2 linked regions of the Homo sapiens genome follow. The protein of the gene in region 2 binds, or shares a complex with, the protein of the main gene of each other region. Each region holds a gene or a part of one and is shown on either strand. Other genes may lie near its edges.

Region 1 (8,338 bases), on a different chromosome or scaffold from region 2:
TTCAGTTTGACAGCTAGTAAAAGATCATGACTTAAGATATAAAGTTATTTCCTCATATAGAAGTTAAAAAGTACAGGTCTACATGAAAGCTCCATCGTTACTCAGCACTGGGCTCCTTTTTTGCTCTTTTGCACATGGTTTGCATTCTTAGCAATATCTCACATCTAAGGTGGCTGTCAAAGCCCCAGCCATCATGACCTTGAGACTGGCAGAAAGCAGGAGAGGAAATGGGGGATGGGCAAAGAGGGCACAGCCAGTCTATTCCCATTTAGGAAGAAATTTTTGGAAGTTCTTTTTTTTTCCCCCAAGATGAAGTCACACTCTTTCGCCCAGGCTGGAGTGCAATGGCACGATCTCGGCACACTGCAACCTCCGCCTCCCAGGTTCAAGCAATTCTCACATCTCAGCCTCCCGAGTAGCTGGGACTACAGGCGCACACCACCATGCCAGGCTAATTTTTGTATTTTTAGTAGAGACGGGATTTCACCATATTGGTCAAGCTAGTCTCGAACTCCTGACCTCAGGTGATCCACCCACCTTGGCCTCCCGAAGTGCTGGAATTACAGGCGTGAGCCACTGCACCTGGCCAACCATCCTATAGTCTTCCAGCAGAGTCTCTCAAATCAGTGTCTCCAGATAGACGTGAACTCCTTGGCATGTCAAGTGAGGGGGTACTCCAGCCATTCTGGCTCCTTACATCCTTTTTGGAACAGAGGGCTAGTCACCCAGATGGGGAGTTTCAGAAAGGACCAGGTTTGAGAAGAAGGCCATAAATTTGGTTTGGGACATGTTGAGTTTGAGATGTCTTTGAGACATCCAAGAGGATATGTTGAGTAGGCCCTTGCACCCATGCATGTGGAATTTAGATAAGAGGATTGAGCTGGAAAAAGAAAACGATCAGTTCTCAGTGTATAGGTGGTAAGTGAAGCCATGGGTGCGAATGACAGGAGAGAATGCCCAGGGAGAGAATGCTGAATGAAAGAAGAGGTTATAGGACCCAGTCTTAAGGAACATCAACTCATTTCTCACATTCAAAAAAAAAAAAAAAAAATCAGTCCACCTCCCTTCATACATTGAACATCACCCATGGGATCAGTGACCTTCAGCCAAAATCCTAAAGCTTTTTGTGCCACCCAAGGTTGAGTGACAAGGCTGCAGTCTTCCTATTGTCCCATCCTGCTCTCACCCCTGCAGGAGGCCAGTGTAAGTATCTGTTCCTAAGTGTTTTTCCTAACACTAGTGAGAAACCTGTGGGAACTCCAGGGAAGTAGGAGTGTCCACCAGCCATTCCCTGTCTCTAGGAAGCTTGTGGAGTGAATACCTTCTGTGCAAAAGCCTCTAGGTCCAAGTTGAGATCATCCACTGAGCTGGGCCAGGGCCCAGTCCTCTATTAACTTTTGGGGTTTTTCTGGGTTGCTTATGACCTTGCTGCACATAGAAGACATAATCTCTGTCCTCTTGTGGCTTCTCTCCTTCCTTCCTTTAGAGTAGCAAGGTTCTATCTACCTCCTGTCTGACTGTGGCTGAGCCATCTCTTGGGCTGCGGCCCATGATCCCAATAGCTTTGCTGTGCAGGGCTTCTCAGCTCCCAGGATCACCCCCCTTCCTTCCATGGTGAACGATGAGAAGCTAGACTGGCTTGGTTGCCGTCAACATGTCAATAAATCTCTTAGTAGCCCAGGCACATGATGCGAAGATTGTGGGGAGCCTGCCTTGAGAGAGGGATTTACAGCCCTCTAGAGAAGTAGAATTGTTTCTGAGCCTATGGGGAGCCTTCAGTTTGGCTGCTATGAGCCCCAGCCCTGCCTGGAAAAGTCTAGTGTCAGCTGAGACCCCAGGACTACTTCCTAGTTGGGACAATAACCTTTTCTCCTGCCGAACCACAGGGGCTTGGCTGGCCTTCAGAACCATCATCTCCAGCTGACTGTTTTTTGTTTCTTTGTTTTTTTAAAAAAACTTATGGGGGTTTCAAACGTACAACAAATATAGAAAGAAAAATATCCCAGGTTCTCATCATACAGCTTAAAAAATCATCAAAATAGTACCAAGATTGTATCATCTACCCACCACATATTTTTAGTGGAAAGACATTTATGATAACTCTTGAAAGAAAGAGTAGACTATAAAACACCATATTCAATATGGTCACTTTTTAAAAAAATGATAATCTTCAGATTCACCATTTGATTATAGTGTTGCATTAAAGTTAAACCGTGGTTTATGGCAGCCCAGAGCCTAGCTGTCTGGTTTTTGAGGCCACACAGTGCCTTTGGAGGTGGGAGGAAGATCTGGAGCCAACTCTAAGTCAAGGAGCCCAGCTTTCAGTCTCCAAGCTACAGCGTGGCTTCTGATATTTGCACGGACTTGTCATAGGGTGGACATCCTGACACACTTCGGAAAGGAGGCACCACAGCTCAGAAAAAGTTTCCTTAGAAGGCTTACACTGTAGCAACCCCAGGAGTGCACAGAACTTGACACTGAACAGCATGGCAGAGTAGGGAAAATACAGAACTGTGCTATGATGTCATCTTGTTTGTTCATTCATTCACACATTACTGAGCACCTACTATGTGACAGTCACCTTGCTTAGGCAACAGAAATACTAAGGTGACCATGAGCTCTTCCAGGAGCAGACACAGACACAGGTAATGGAAACAATGTGATGAGAGATGTAGCAGAAGTACATGAAGCCTGTAGACCACTAGAGGAGGAGAAGGTAAGTCTTCACTAGAGGTGGCTGGGTCCTGAATGATGGAGATGGGCAATTTCAAAAGGAAAACAGAGAAGTACAAAATAGTCATAATGATGGCAGCTACCTTTAAAAAAGTATTATTTTGAGGTTTGATAGTGTAGACTATAGTCCTAGCTCCATCACTCATTGTAATCTTTATTATCTTAGTTTATGTACTTCTTAATAATAACACTCAAGCAACCCTATCACTTAGGCACTATTATCTACATTTACATATTAGTGCCTAGGTGACAGGGTTGAGTGTTACTATTAAGCACTTGCTACATTCCATATCCTACATGTACATAATTTCTCATCTTAACAACAACCTTGAAAGTAGGTTTCTTCATTATACAAATGAAGAAAAGTGACACTTGGGTTGATCATGCTCATATGGATTAAAGGCTGGCATAGGGATTTGGACTCCTGTCTTTCTGACATCTAAGCCCATGGCCTTCCTAATATTTCGTGTCTAATGGGGCAGGAACACTGAATGCAGGCAGAATGAAGGCATAATGAGATAAAGACATCTTTCTGACATTTCCTTTCTGGAAATGTCTGGTTGGTTGGCGCATATCTTGGCAGACCTGCCTGACACCAAATTGGCTCTTTCTAGAAGTGTGGTCATGAGTGTCACCAAGAGACTGTTCATGAAATCCTTCATGAATGTGTTTCCCATAGGGCAGGTGGAAAAACTAAAGCATGACTTTAACTTTGGAACTCCGAAAAAGTCAATAAAAAGACAAGCCAGTAAACAAAGGGGTGAGGGTGCAGAAGACTTTAACAGACCTTTCACAAAAAAATAAAAATTAAATTAAAAAATAAATGGCAAATAAGCACATGAACAGATGCTTAACATTTTTAGTTACCAGGGAAATGCAAATTAAAACCACAATGAGCAAACACTACATACATACCCAAGTGGTCAAAACTAAAAAGTACAAAAAATTAGAAACTTCAAATGCTGACCAGGATGTGGTACAATGGAGACTCATAGTTTATGGAAACATAAAATGATACATTTTGGAGAAAGGTCTGACAGTTTCTTATAAAATTAAACATACACCTGCTCTCTGACCCAGCAATTCCACTCTTAAATACCTGGCCAAAGGATATGAGAAATATACGTCTACAAAGGAGCTTGCACAGACAGCAGCCTTGTTAATAATAACCAAAAACTTTAAAAGTGCCCATCAAGAGTTGAATGGATAAATTAATAATACTACGCAGTAATAAAAAGAATTGTGGATACATGCAAGAACATGGATGATTCTCAAAAACATTCTTCCCATGAGAAAAAAAAAAGCCTTACACAGTATACATACTATATGATTTCATTTATATTTAGTTCTGGAACAGATTAATCTATTGTGGGAAAAAATCAGGGTACTAACTGCCTCTGGAAGGTGATAGAGGAGCAGGGATTGACTAGGAAAGGGTATTGCTAATTTTCTGGGGTTTTAGGAATGTTCTGTATCATGATAGGAGTTCGGGTTACATAGGTGTGTGCATTTGTCAAAACTCAGTGAATGTGTACTTTGGATTTGTGCATTTCACTGTATGTGAATTTTACATCAAAATGCAATCGAATACTGAACTCTAGTTAATTATATGCATGCTTAACTACTTAAAGGAAAGTGTACTAATGTCTGCAATTTACTTTGAAGTGCACCAAAACACAAGATGGAATGATGGATGTATAGACAAATATGTGGTAAAGTACAAGTATAGTATAATGTAAATAGTAGAATCTAGGTGGTGGAAAATAGGTTTATTGTAACAGGTGCTCATTCTTTCAATTTTGTTTGAACATTTTCGTAATAAAAGAACCACTTATTTGGGGGTTTTGCAGCAAATGGAGACACTAGAAGCTAAGAGGGGCAGGAGGTTCCTCTTACTTTGGGAAATGCAAATTAAAACCACAATGGTTTTCCCAAAAGTAATTGATCTTTTTCAGTCAATGTTTCCTCAACTATCAAATGGGTAAAATGGCAGTGAAGGAGCTTCATATTATTAAGCATTTCCTGGTGGGTGGAATACGCCATGAACTAGGTGCGGCCTCAAGCTGGTTACTCGCCCTGCCTACTCCCTCTCGTGTCCTCCCAGTACCCCCTTAGACCCACCAGCTCTGAGGGAATCTTCGCGACCTGCGCAGGCGGTCGCTCTGATAACCGCATCCCGGTTTCCGGGACGACAGCGGAAGTCACTTCTCACACGCCTTTCTTATTGGATACCGGCTTTTCATGGGGCCGAGCGCCGCTGGGTAGGCGGAAGTAGCCGCAGGCATGGCGGCGGCTATGCCGCTTGCTCTGCTCGTCCTGTTGCTCCTGGGGCCCGGCGGCTGGTGCCTTGCAGAACCCCCACGCGACAGCCTGCGGGAGGAACTTGTCATCACCCCGCTGCCTTCCGGGGACGTAGCCGCCACATTCCAGTTCCGCACGCGCTGGGATTCGGAGCTTCAGCGGGAAGGAGGTGAGGGCGCGAGATCTGACCAGGGAAAGATTTCCGTAGTGCCTGCTGGCTGGCCGGCCGTGGGATGAAGGCAAACTTTGGGGGCGGGGCCTAATTCCTGGGTAGAGTTCGGGATCCTGGGTGTGGACCCCGACGAGGTGGGGATCGTCACTCACCTGCTCCCGTTTCCCCAGTGTCCCATTACAGGCTCTTTCCCAAAGCCCTGGGGCAGCTGATCTCCAAGTATTCTCTACGGGAGCTGCACCTGTCATTCACACAAGGCTTTTGGAGGACCCGATACTGGGGGCCACCCTTCCTGCAGGCCCCATCAGGTGCAGAGCTGTGGGTCTGGTTCCAAGACACTGTCACTGAGTGAGTGCACACCTTGGGCCCTGTTGCAGGCCATGGAGGGAATGTGGCTGGGAGAGTGTTGTCATCCTGCCACTGCTCTTGGGGACAGCACTTCCAGTAGGCAGCGATTCCATGGGGGTAGAGCTGGCATTGGAAGTAAGAAATGTTACCACAGATGAATAAACTTCCCAATCCTAAAACTTTCAGACCTGAGGTAGCACATGCATATCCCTGGAGAGGCAAATAGCAAACAATTAATGCTTATTTGGAGGTAAGGCAGTAGAAAACTGGCAACTGGATAACCTTTTAAAAGGCATTCATTAATATTTTTTAAATGATAATAAATACCACGAAAGCCAACCATAACATATCTGTGGGTTACAACTGGCCAACAGGATGCTACATCACAGTGTTAGAGGAACTGCTTTTGTTTGGGAGGGGGCAGGTCTAGTTACTGTGCCTACTACAAACCGCTATTTCCCAGTGGCTGCTGTGGCTATCCTGTTTAGAATAGAACCTTTCTGTGCAGTGGTTGCAAACAGGTCTACATGGGCCACACAGGTAAGGAATGAATAAAGGTATTTTTAAAATTGACAAACACAGGAATGAGAAATATATCTCATTTTCCTCTTAATCCCACTATAAGAAATCAATAGTGCAAGTATGATATAACAAGTTTTAGGGCAATAAAAAGGAGCAGCAGGAATTGTGGCAGGCTAGAGAGTTTGTGTGACATTCTAACGAGGACAGCTCTGCCACTCAGCTTCTATGGATTGTTGCCATGTGGGAATAGAGGCCTAATGTGGTCAGAGTCAAATGTTTCTAAAAATTTTTTGTAGAAACAAGGTCTCACTATATTGCCCAGGCTGGTCTCGAACTCCTGGGTTCAAGCGATCCTCCTGCCTCAGCCTCCCAAAGTGTTGGGATTACAGGCAAGAGCCACCACACCTGGCCTCATTTTTCAAGAGATACCAGAAATCTGGAATTTAATGTGAAAATTGGCAAATTCAAATATCAGCAAGTAATTTAAAAATTTTTTGAGTGCTGTGCGGGTCAATGTTGTGCATACCAAATGAAGCATGTTTATGGTTTGAGTAGAGCTTTCCGGCTTCAAGTTTGCCATTTTTATTTGAGGCTTAAGGATTGGAGCAGTTGAAAAGCTCTGAACATAGAATTATCAAAAGCTCCTGGACAACACTAAGGAATAAGGAATAAGCAGTAACTCCCCAGCTTGCCAAGACTTTCTCTCTTGCCTCAACTCTGGCTCCCCTACCCTTTCCTGTCTACTCTGCTGTCACTGTCTTCCCTCAGCCCGTAATTGCCTGAAATGTGGAGCAAATGCTTAGAATTCTTTCTAGTGCTTATTAAGTTTTATGCTTTCTCTATTACTGAGAGCAAATCTCTTTTGATATTTCTCCAAGAAAAGAACATTAATTTAATTTGATGTTTTTATGAAATCCTAGAACAGTTGTTTTTCCCATGTTCAGTGAGCTTTTTTGGATATAAGACTTCTCACCATGATAGTAGAATCAGGACTTACCTTTATTCCCAGAGTATACACAGGGTAGTATGCATTGTTTTGCCCAGCCCAGCACATTCAAGGAAGATCAGTGAGCTCATTTCAGCTCTGATACATGAGGCGCTTTCCATGGTGTCAGGGGAAGTACATAGATGACCCAGACTGGTCCTTGTCCTCAAGTTGCTTACAGCCTAGTTAGGGAGAAAAGGTGGTCAGGACACGATGCTGCTGCCACCTAGCCATCTCCCAGGAGGGACCTAGTAAGATGCTTGGATGGTCAGAACCGTGACTGCACAGAGGAGACTGTGCTTAAGGAGGGCAGGAAAGGCTTCGTGGAGGGGAGGTAAGCACTGGAGCCGGATCATGAAGGTAGGCAGAAAGAAGTTAGCAAAGGCTTGCAAGGAAGGAAGAATCACCTGAGCAGAGACCCATGGGGATGCAGAGATGTCCAGAGGAGAGTGAGGAAGAAGGGGCTGAGTAGGATGAGACCCAGCAAGTGGGCTGGCTGGGGGCAGCAATGTTCCAGCTCCATCAACTGGCCCGTCTAATAGTTAAGAATACAGCCTCCTCCTATCATAGGTTTAGCAGCCAGCTGTGGACTTTGAAAGAGGGAGCAGAGGTAGCCCCAGGACAGTGAGTGGATTTGTGTCTCTATCCAGTGTGGATAAATCTTGGAAGGAGCTCAGTAATGTCCTCTCAGGGATCTTCTGCGCCTCTCTCAACTTCATCGACTCCACCAACACAGTCACTCCCACTGCCTCCTTCAAACCCCTGGGTCTGGCCAATGGTGAGATAACCCCTACAGCCCTTTCCTTCTTCCTCTTACCTCCTGCCCAAACCTTTGCCTCCTTTTCCCTCAGTTTCCTGCTTCCTCAGCCTGGGCTAGATCCTAAGTCCCCTGTGTGTGCAGGCCCCCAATACTGTGCCATCTCTGCATGCCTTTTCCCAAGGAGAGAAGGGAGTCCTACTCCCAGTTGGGACTGTCCAGACTGTGGTGCTAGAGGTGGTGTGGGGAGCAGGAGGGTCATTCCCATCTCTGGAATGTGGATCCCGAGGGGTCAGAGCCCAAGGCCCACCCCAGACAGACCTCTGTCTCCCTCAGACACTGACCACTACTTTCTGCGCTATGCTGTGCTGCCGCGGGAGGTGGTCTGCACCGAAAACCTCACCCCCTGGAAGAAGCTCTTGCCCTGTAGTTCCAAGGTGAGGCCGCAGAGCCTGGCAGCCGGGGGCGGGGGGTGTATAGAGAACCTGCGCCCCATGCCAAGTGCTCCATACAGGGCTTC
Region 2 (8,205 bases):
TGTATGCCAGTAGCATAAATGACAAAATAAAAGGTAGTTTAATTTCATTTCATGCAAATGTAAAACTTTTGTGCTTCAAAAAGGACTCCATTTAGGTTAAAAAAATCCTTATAGAATGAGAGAAAGCATTTGAAAATCGTATATCTAGTAAGGGACTGGTATCCTGAATACATAAAGAACTCTTGCAACCCAACATTATAAAGCAAAATAACCCAATTTAAATATATGCAAAGAATTCAAAAAGATGTTTCTCCAAAGTGAGACAGGTATAATACAGTGTGGTCACAAAAGAAGAAAAAAACTTTAGGCAGCAGTTTCAGGTGACTAGCAAAAGGAATCTGTTGAAATATCTGCAGAGGCTCTGGGCTGATAAGACCCTAAAAGACAGGGTATGGACCAGGCTGGCTAAGAATGAGTGGACCCAACATGGCCCTGGGTTTGGCCTCGGTTTCACCTAGGACCCTATTATACACTAATTGACATACTAAACGCACACACACCAGCGTCTTGGCAATTCAGAGAACACCAATATTTGGTGTAAAAATGGGTGGCACCACAGTTCTGAGCAGTCTCCACCTTCTTTTAGGAATTTTCATGAATATTCCACCCCTTGTTAAAGAAACCCAGAAAGGTGGCAGCCCTAAACCCCCTTGCACCTGCCTCTCTCTTGAGTTCCCCTGCATTCCCTTTACATGAGTGTGTACTTTCCCTTTTACAAAAAAATCTCCGTCCTTTCTCTATTTTCCTACTGGTCCTAGAATTCATTTCCCCAGGCGGTGTCAAGAGCCCGACACCGGCTGGGGTCGAGGTCTCATCAGAGTTTGGGGACCACCGGTTGCCCACTGGCATCGGAAGAAGAATGCAAATGGCAGTGAGCCCAGGAAAAGGTGCTCAGTGTCCACAGACCTCAGGGAAATGCCAACAGCACCCACAAGGGGACGCCTCACCCCGCTGGAATGGGTGACCCCAAACACTGTGAGGCTGGAGGGGGTGGGGCCTGCGTTCCTTACAAGGCAGAGAGCAGGAGACTGAGAGTTGGTGGAGTGTAGGGCTGTTCCTGTGTCATCCTCTTCCCATTTTCCTGGCGGAGGTTTCTCTTTGTTCTCTGGCCCTACCTGCTTCCTTCCTCTCCCTTTCTCTGGTTCTCCCTCCCGTCCTTCATTTCCAACCATCCCAAGGTTTTCTCTGCCTCAAGACGTCCATGCTCGGGGCCCCCAGCCCAGTGGAGAAACCAGGAGCCCTGGACCGCGAGCGGCGGGGTCGGGGAGGCGACAACGGGAAGCCCCTGTTGGATCCTGGGCACTCAGGACCTAGTGCGCCATGGGCGCCCTCCCGCAGCAGCCCCAGGGCAAGGAGGATGGGGGTCCTCGTGGGGGCCACACTGTCGGATCCCCAGGGATCCGAGCGGGACTGTGACGTCTCCACACTGAGCCGGTGGCAAAGTCGCCGCGAGGATGAAGGAGGAACCTCGTGCTCTTCACCCCACCAGGCCCCGCATTTCCTGTCTCCTGCCACGGTTCCTTGTCGCGACCGGCGAGTCCTCCCAGGTCTTCGAAAGGCCGTTTTGTCCGGAGGCTGTGGACCCGGAGGCCCGGGAGCATCGGCGGGCAGCGTGGCACCCACTCGGCGGTCTCAACCGGGCAGGACCCGGGTCCGGAGCTCGGGCGAAGCGGGCGTCCTGGGAGGAGCGCGCAGAACCCGGAGAGGACGCAGCAGGGTGAAAACTGAAACCGCATATGCGAACTGTCTCCGAAAGTCATCTGCGGTTGAAATCAGAAATCACCTATAATATCCCCTTTGTGACAACACCGTTGGGTAAATATCTAGAACCGGTGCCTCGTCACTGCAGCAGCCCCGCACGCAGCTGCCCGGGTTCCCCTCCCCGGACCCTAGTGGCCCCCAACAGATCAGGCGGGCCCACCGTGTGACCGTCCCTGGGACTCTCGGCCCCACTCTTACTTACTACTTCACCTCCACATTTTCACCTGTTTCAGAATCAAAACCCTGAAAAGTCATGTGTGAAAGGCTCCCCCGCCCCTGCCTGCGTCCACTCTCATTGGCCACACGCCAGGGAGGAAAGTTTATTTGATTCTTCTCATCTTTCCAGGGAGTCTTTATGCCGTTTCAAACGAATATAAATACATATTCTCAATTCAGACGCGGATATTTTTGACCCTTGATGAACCCTGTCACCCTGTCCTTCAGGAAGCCTGTACCAGTTTCCCCTCCCTCTACGGTGGATGTTTCACCATCCTCTGCCCAAGCTGGGTCATCACAATCACAGACAAGAGTGTCGCCAGCATTGCCATCCTATGACATGAGATGCTTTAAAGGTGCATTACTTCGCACAGCAATTCTGTGTCTGGAAATCTATTCTACACAATGAAATTGTGATTCATGCAAGCACAGTTTCTGCAGCATTTCGCTTCTCTAAAAGTCACTGGAGACCGTCTGGATCTTCAGACACAGACACTGGTTACTTTTGTTGTGATGCAGTCATTCTATGTAATGTGCAGAGATAAAAAGGAAAAAATCTGTATGTGCAGGTATTGCAAGATCTTCAAAGTGTGTTATTTTGAGATAGAATCTGTGTTCAGCAGAGTGCCTATGGGTTTATATTTGTTTTAAAAACCAGAATTGATACATAAACACGTATCTACTGTTAGTAAGGAAAACAGTATTTCCATAACTTATTGCCAGTCTCTTTATCCATTTTAGGAAAAATCGATATACTTGAAAAGCCACGGTGGCAGGAATTGGTCATCACCCACCAGGATTCTACACTGCCCTACAGGTGATCCCAACTGAGGTTGCCAGAGGAACAGGATGTGGAATGCAGTCGCGTTTCAGAGAGGAACCTAAAGTCAGAATGGACCAGGGGTCTTGCCCTGACCTCTGCCTCTTCACCCAACCCCCACCTGGTCAGGCAGTGACCCTGGAGGGGCTGGGATGATCCTGGGAGAGCAGTGAAATGGGGAGCCAATGGTGGGAGCATGGTGAACATGGAGAGCCCAGACCCCACACCATCTGGGGAGGAGCTCATGTGATGCTGGGAGCACTGGGAAGACAGGGAGCCTGGACACAGCACTCACTGCTCCTCCCATCTGGGACAGGATTGGGGTGGGTGATGAGAAAAGTTTCCTGAGTAACACAGTTCCCAATCCTGGCAGAATAACTCACCCCAGTTGCACTCACAGCCAAGACCCACTCAGCCCCTGGACCAGTCTAACACAGGGCTTGGTAAATCCAGGAGTGAATACTACTGAGGCATCTGCCAGGGCATAGGAAACAGTAACAAGAGGACGGCTCAGCTAGTGGCTCAGACTATCTTGCCCCACACTCTCCAATATTGAGTAGGGAGTAAGCCTTGAGCCCAGGAGGTTGAGGATTCAGTGAATTATGATCGTGCCACTGCACTCCAGACTGGTGACAGAGTAAGAGTCTGTCACACATGCTTACACACACAAATTAAATTGTGTGAGCAGTTGTCACACAGGGAGATCTGGATGCACTCACTGTGGACCCAGGTCTCAGCGAGCAGGAGGGTGTTCTGTATTGTGGGAACATGAGGGACACGCATGGGACCGGGCATTTGTGCCTAGCTTTGAAGGGTGGCTGGCCCTTTGCCCAGGGCGAAGAGGCCAGCAGAATGCACTAACAGTGGGGAACCACCAGGAACTTTCACTTGAACCTGCTCTGCTGAGCCCCCTGTGCCATCCGTGGACCTGGGCGAGGGAGGCTGCTGAACTGGGAGCTCAGGGCCCATCTCTCTGAGGAGCTTTCTAAATCAGCAAGTGTGTCACAGGTTGAGATTTTAGGAACGGGGTCCTCCATGTTGTCCTCGATTTTAATAAGTAGACTCTTTTGGCCAATCTGCATTGGGCAGAGCAGGAACAAGACATAATTTTTTAATATATATTTTTAAAGCTGTTTAATTTTGGTAAAAACATAGAAGATAAAATTTACCATCTTGACCAGTTGTTTAGTGCACAATATGTTGTTTTAAACCTCTGGAACCCTGCCTGCTGCTCCTGTAATAAAACCTAGCCCGGGCCAGGCGCGGTGGCTAACGCCTGTAATCCCAGCACTTTGGGAGGCCGAGACGGGTGGATCACCTAAGGTCATGAGTTTGAGACCAGCCTGGCCAACAAGATGAAACCCCATCTCTACCAAAAATACAAACAATTCGCCGGGCGTGGTGGAGGGCGTCTGTAATCCCAGCTACTCCGGAAGCTGAGGCCAGAGAATCCCTTGAACCCGGGAAGCGGCGATTGCGGTGAGCCGAGATCACGCCACTGCACTCCAGCCTGGGCAACAAGAGCGAAACTCCGTCTCTAAATAAATAAATAAATAAATAAATAAATAATAAAACCTAGCCCGGACTGTAATCACGTCCACTGGGAACTGGCGCAGTAGTGGAGGGGACGCGATCAGGCCCGTGGCTGCGCCCAGAGCATGATAAGCCAGGGACCTCGCGGCGCAGGCGGAGGGAGGGAGAGCGTCGCGGACCCAGGCGGGGACAGGGAGACGCCGCCGCCGCTGAATATTCCTCTGCAAGTTTCTTCACCTTCAATAAAAAAATGTTGTGATGATTAAATGAGTCTGTCGTGGAAGGAACCGTGTCTTGGCAGGAGCCGGGCGGACACCCAGACACCAACCCGAAGGGGGTTGGGACAAAGGGGAGGGACGCCCGGGAAGGGGAGGGACACCGTCAGGGCAGCCAATCATATTTCTAGCCGCGTGACGCTATGACCCGCTTGACGCTATGACAGCGGGAAACGGGGGGCGCGCCCGTACATAGGGAGGCTTTAAAACCTTGAGGTGATTCATCTTCCAGGCTCTCCTTCCATCAAGTCTCTCATCCCTAGCGCTCTGGGTCCTTAATGGCAGCAGCCGCCGCTACCAAGATCCTTCTGTGCCTCCCGCTTCTGCTCCTGCTGTCCGGCTGGTCCCGGGCTGGGCGAGCCGGTGAGTTCGTGGATGGAGCCTAAGCCGGGCGGGGACCAAGCCTGGAGGGCTGTGAACTGCCGCGGGTTTCAGAGGAGGGGAGGCTTCTAGAAGGACGGGGGAGATCTCCCCTAACTGCGCCCCCGTTCAGTTCCGGTCGGCGGCTCCTTCCTGCTGGGTGCAGTCCCCGAGGCTGCTTCTTGCCCGGGAAGAGGCGAAAAGGAGCGGGGTGGAAAGGAGGCTGGCAGGAGGGTGGAGGGGCCGGAGGGCTGCAGAGAGCGAGGTGGGGCGGGGATCCCTGGTGCAGCCTGGCAGTCCCACCCGCCCTCGGGAAGGAAAAACCAGAGCCCCCGGAACCGGAGCTGGGGACAGGACAGGGGTGAAGCGGGATTCCACAGGGACGCGATCACAGACACCCCCACCAGCCACAGGCCTGCTCTGCTCTCACCCGCTCTCCACCACACAAACCCTCCAGCGCCCCCAGGGCTGCGTGCCCTTGAATTTTTCCCTGCACTTTCCTGTAGACACTCACCTGCACCCAGGGGCTCAGCAGACAACCGCCACCCCTCCCCTCACCATCCACTGCCACCACCCAGGTCACGTCCTCTTACTGCCCACCTCAGCCCAGCTGGTCACCCCAGAGGTCTCCCCATCCATGAAGGGGACCTCACCACCTCCTACACCACGTCGCACCTTCTGCCTCTTGCCTGAGGACACACCCCAGCAAACACACCCCAAGCTCCCCTCAGAACCTGTGCAGGGGGGATGGGAAGCACCATTTCCTCCAGGATGACCCTGGGAACTCTGGTGAGTAGAGGCACCCACTTCTGCCCTTGGGGCCCAGACCGCCTGTTCTTCCTACGGGGGTGTCAGCGTCATAGAGAATAGTCACTGTGTAGACAGGGGTCAGCAAACTCTTTCTAGAAAGGGAGGAAGGATGCCCTGTGATCTTTGCAGGCCGTGGGTTCTCCGTCTCAGTGTCCAGTCCTGTCCCTTTGTAGAGCAACAGCAGGCAATGGCAACCTTCAAATAGGGGGGACCAGATTTGGACCCTGTCCTAGGTTGCTGATCCCAGATCAGGGGATTACAATGTCCCAGTGAATAGTGCCCCATCCCCTATGGTGTCATCTCCAAGTGATGTCTCTGATGTCAGTTGGAGAGTAGAAGGTGGTCCTACCTTGTCTGTGGCTTCTGGGTGGTGTGGATGTGATGGGAGTGGGGGTCCCATAGTTGGGGGCTTATTCTCCCCTCCTTTGTGCTGAGTGGCATCCACGGGGACCATCAGGTACCCTCCCTGAAGCCTCAGGTGTGAGCTGAGGGTGAGGGGGTGCAGCCACGTGGTGTCCTGGGGATCGGGTCCAACTGCTTGTGCAGCTTCTTGGTTCCCGGTGGCCCTGCTCCTGCCCATCCCAGAAGAACCACCTGCGTCTTCTCACTGCTGGGCCTAACTTCCTAATGACCTAGAGGGTGAGGAGCCCACCAGTAATGGGCAGCTCTGAGGCCTTCAGCAATAGGCATCCCTAAGCTTCATTCCATTCTGGTGCCTTGTCATGGGCCTTCTTTATATGCATGGCAAAAGGCCCCATCTCTGCCAAGGTGCAGTACTCTACAGGAGCCACTGCTTAATGTTGCGATTTCCTTGCTGTGAGTGGCATTGCCTTGTCTCTGAATATTCACATGGAATCTCTGTTGTGATTCTCCAATTAGACATTGTGACCACATGTACCTCTAGGGTCTTAGGGGGTCTTGGGTCATTGGGCACTTAAGGTAGGTCCAGCCTCGCTCATCATGCATGGATTGTCTATGGCTGCTTTTGAACTTCAACAGCAGAGTTGAGTAGTTACAATGGAGAATATATTCCCTGCACACCTTTACATGTTTACAAAATTGCCCTTCACAGCAAACTCTACTGGCCATAAATATCTTTGGAGAAGGCCACAAGGACTCACTGTCCTGGCTGCAGGGTTAAAGGGTCCTTCCTCACTAGAAACTGGTGTCTTCTTCTAGTCATGGGTTCAGGGTCTGAGAAGTGGCTTCATTCTGCAAATTAGGCAAAGCAGCCTCGTTCTTGATGGACTGGCTACTTTCAGCCTCCTGATTTGGTTTATCTCTGTTTCTTGTAATTATTTAAATCCAGCAGTATCTGGGGTGGGTTTGCATCTCTTTTGGACCTTGGACCCCTTTGTTCTATGAGCCATGGGCATAACTTTGTATAACTGAGGTCCCCAGCTGGCATTGTGACTTCTCTAATCATTTCCATCATTGCACCCTCCTTGCTCCTGACAGTTGACAGCCTCCACCTGGAATTTGGAATTTCAGAATTGTTCATCCCATTACTCTGGGAGCAGATTTCAGGAACAGCATCTCCTACCCCCAACCCTGGCCTTCAGCAATAGGCATCCCTAAGCTTCATTCCATTCTGGTGCCTTCTCATGGGGCCTTCTTTATATGCTGGGTAAACAGGAGTCCTCCAGGTTTCCCATAAGCACAGTGGATGGACATTGTTCTGGATTTTCACACTTAGACCCCTCTGGCATGGGCACTTCTCTGAGCCTGTGATCTCTCCCTCCACTACCTGCCTTAGACTTTCAGATTTTCCATTTCTTGCTGTGTGGACCATCTCTTTGTCCAAGGTTTCAGGAAGGCCTCCTCATAGCAGATGCATGCCATCACCAGGGGCTTTGCCAACATGTTAAATCCTGTGGCCATGATAATTAACTCTTCTTTATCCAACGGGGTTCCATCCTCACTCTGTTCAACCAGCACCAGCATCCACAGGGGTGGACCCACACCCTCTCCCACCTCCCGCAGTCCACGTGGGCTACTGCTGAAGATCCTCTGCCATCCAGGCCCTTCCTCCTCTCTTGCTAGAGAGGCCTGGCACCTTTCTAGCAAGGTCACGTGTTGACTGATGTGGGCAGAGGGGCAGTGGGACATGTCTGGGGACATGTGGTTTCTCAGCAGACAGAGACTTCCTCCTCCTCCTCCTCCTTGTCCTCATGCAAGGGGCGAGCACTCGCCTTAAACTTGTAGACACCACAGTTCTGGAGGGGGCACTCCTTCCTGGGCCAGCCCAGCCTGCCAGAGGCATCCTCTTATTGACACAGCGTGGAGGGGGGCTAACTAGGGGTCTTTTCCTCCCCACCCACCCCTCACCTGCCTTTCTCCACAGACCCTCACTCTCTTTGCTATGACATCACCGTCATCCCTAAGTTCAGACCTGGACCACGGTGGTGTGCGGTTCAAGGCCAGGTGGAT

What was found.
Region 1: the proteins of ULBP2 (region 2) and PIGT are in contact, whole or in part, in a cryo-EM structure (PDB 8IMY), measured with the Homo sapiens proteins. Residues at the interface, in NP_079493.1 of Homo sapiens: Leu222, Arg223, Ala224, Thr225, Ala226, Leu229, Ile230, Cys233, Ile237, Phe241, Ile242, Gly245; in NP_057021.2 of Homo sapiens: Trp453, Ser523, Pro525, Tyr526, Asn527, Cys530, Leu531, Thr534, Ala537, Val538, Gly541, Ser542, Asn545, Arg549.

Annotation. Positions count from the first base shown.
Region 1 is NC_000020.11:45,411,141-45,419,478, forward strand, and holds the start of PIGT (GPI-anchor transamidase component PIGT isoform 1 precursor), read left to right. Parts: upstream 1-5,000; 5' UTR 5,001-5,016; coding exon 5,017-5,203; exon of another isoform or gene 5,204-5,376; coding exon 5,377-5,554; exon of another isoform or gene 5,555-5,677; intron 5,678-7,073; exon of another isoform or gene 7,074-7,243; intron 7,244-7,711; coding exon 7,712-7,839; intron 7,840-8,154; coding exon 8,155-8,255; intron 8,256-8,332; exon of another isoform or gene 8,333-8,338. UniProt on the Homo sapiens protein: Component of the glycosylphosphatidylinositol-anchor (GPI-anchor) transamidase (GPI-T) complex that catalyzes the formation of the linkage between a proprotein and a GPI-anchor and participates in GPI anchored protein biosynthesis.
Region 2 is NC_000006.12:149,937,190-149,945,394, forward strand, and holds the start of ULBP2 (UL16-binding protein 2 preproprotein), read left to right. Parts: upstream 1-4,824; 5' UTR 4,825-4,883; coding exon 4,884-4,968; intron 4,969-8,119; coding exon 8,120-8,205. UniProt on the Homo sapiens protein: Binds and activates the KLRK1/NKG2D receptor, mediating natural killer cell cytotoxicity.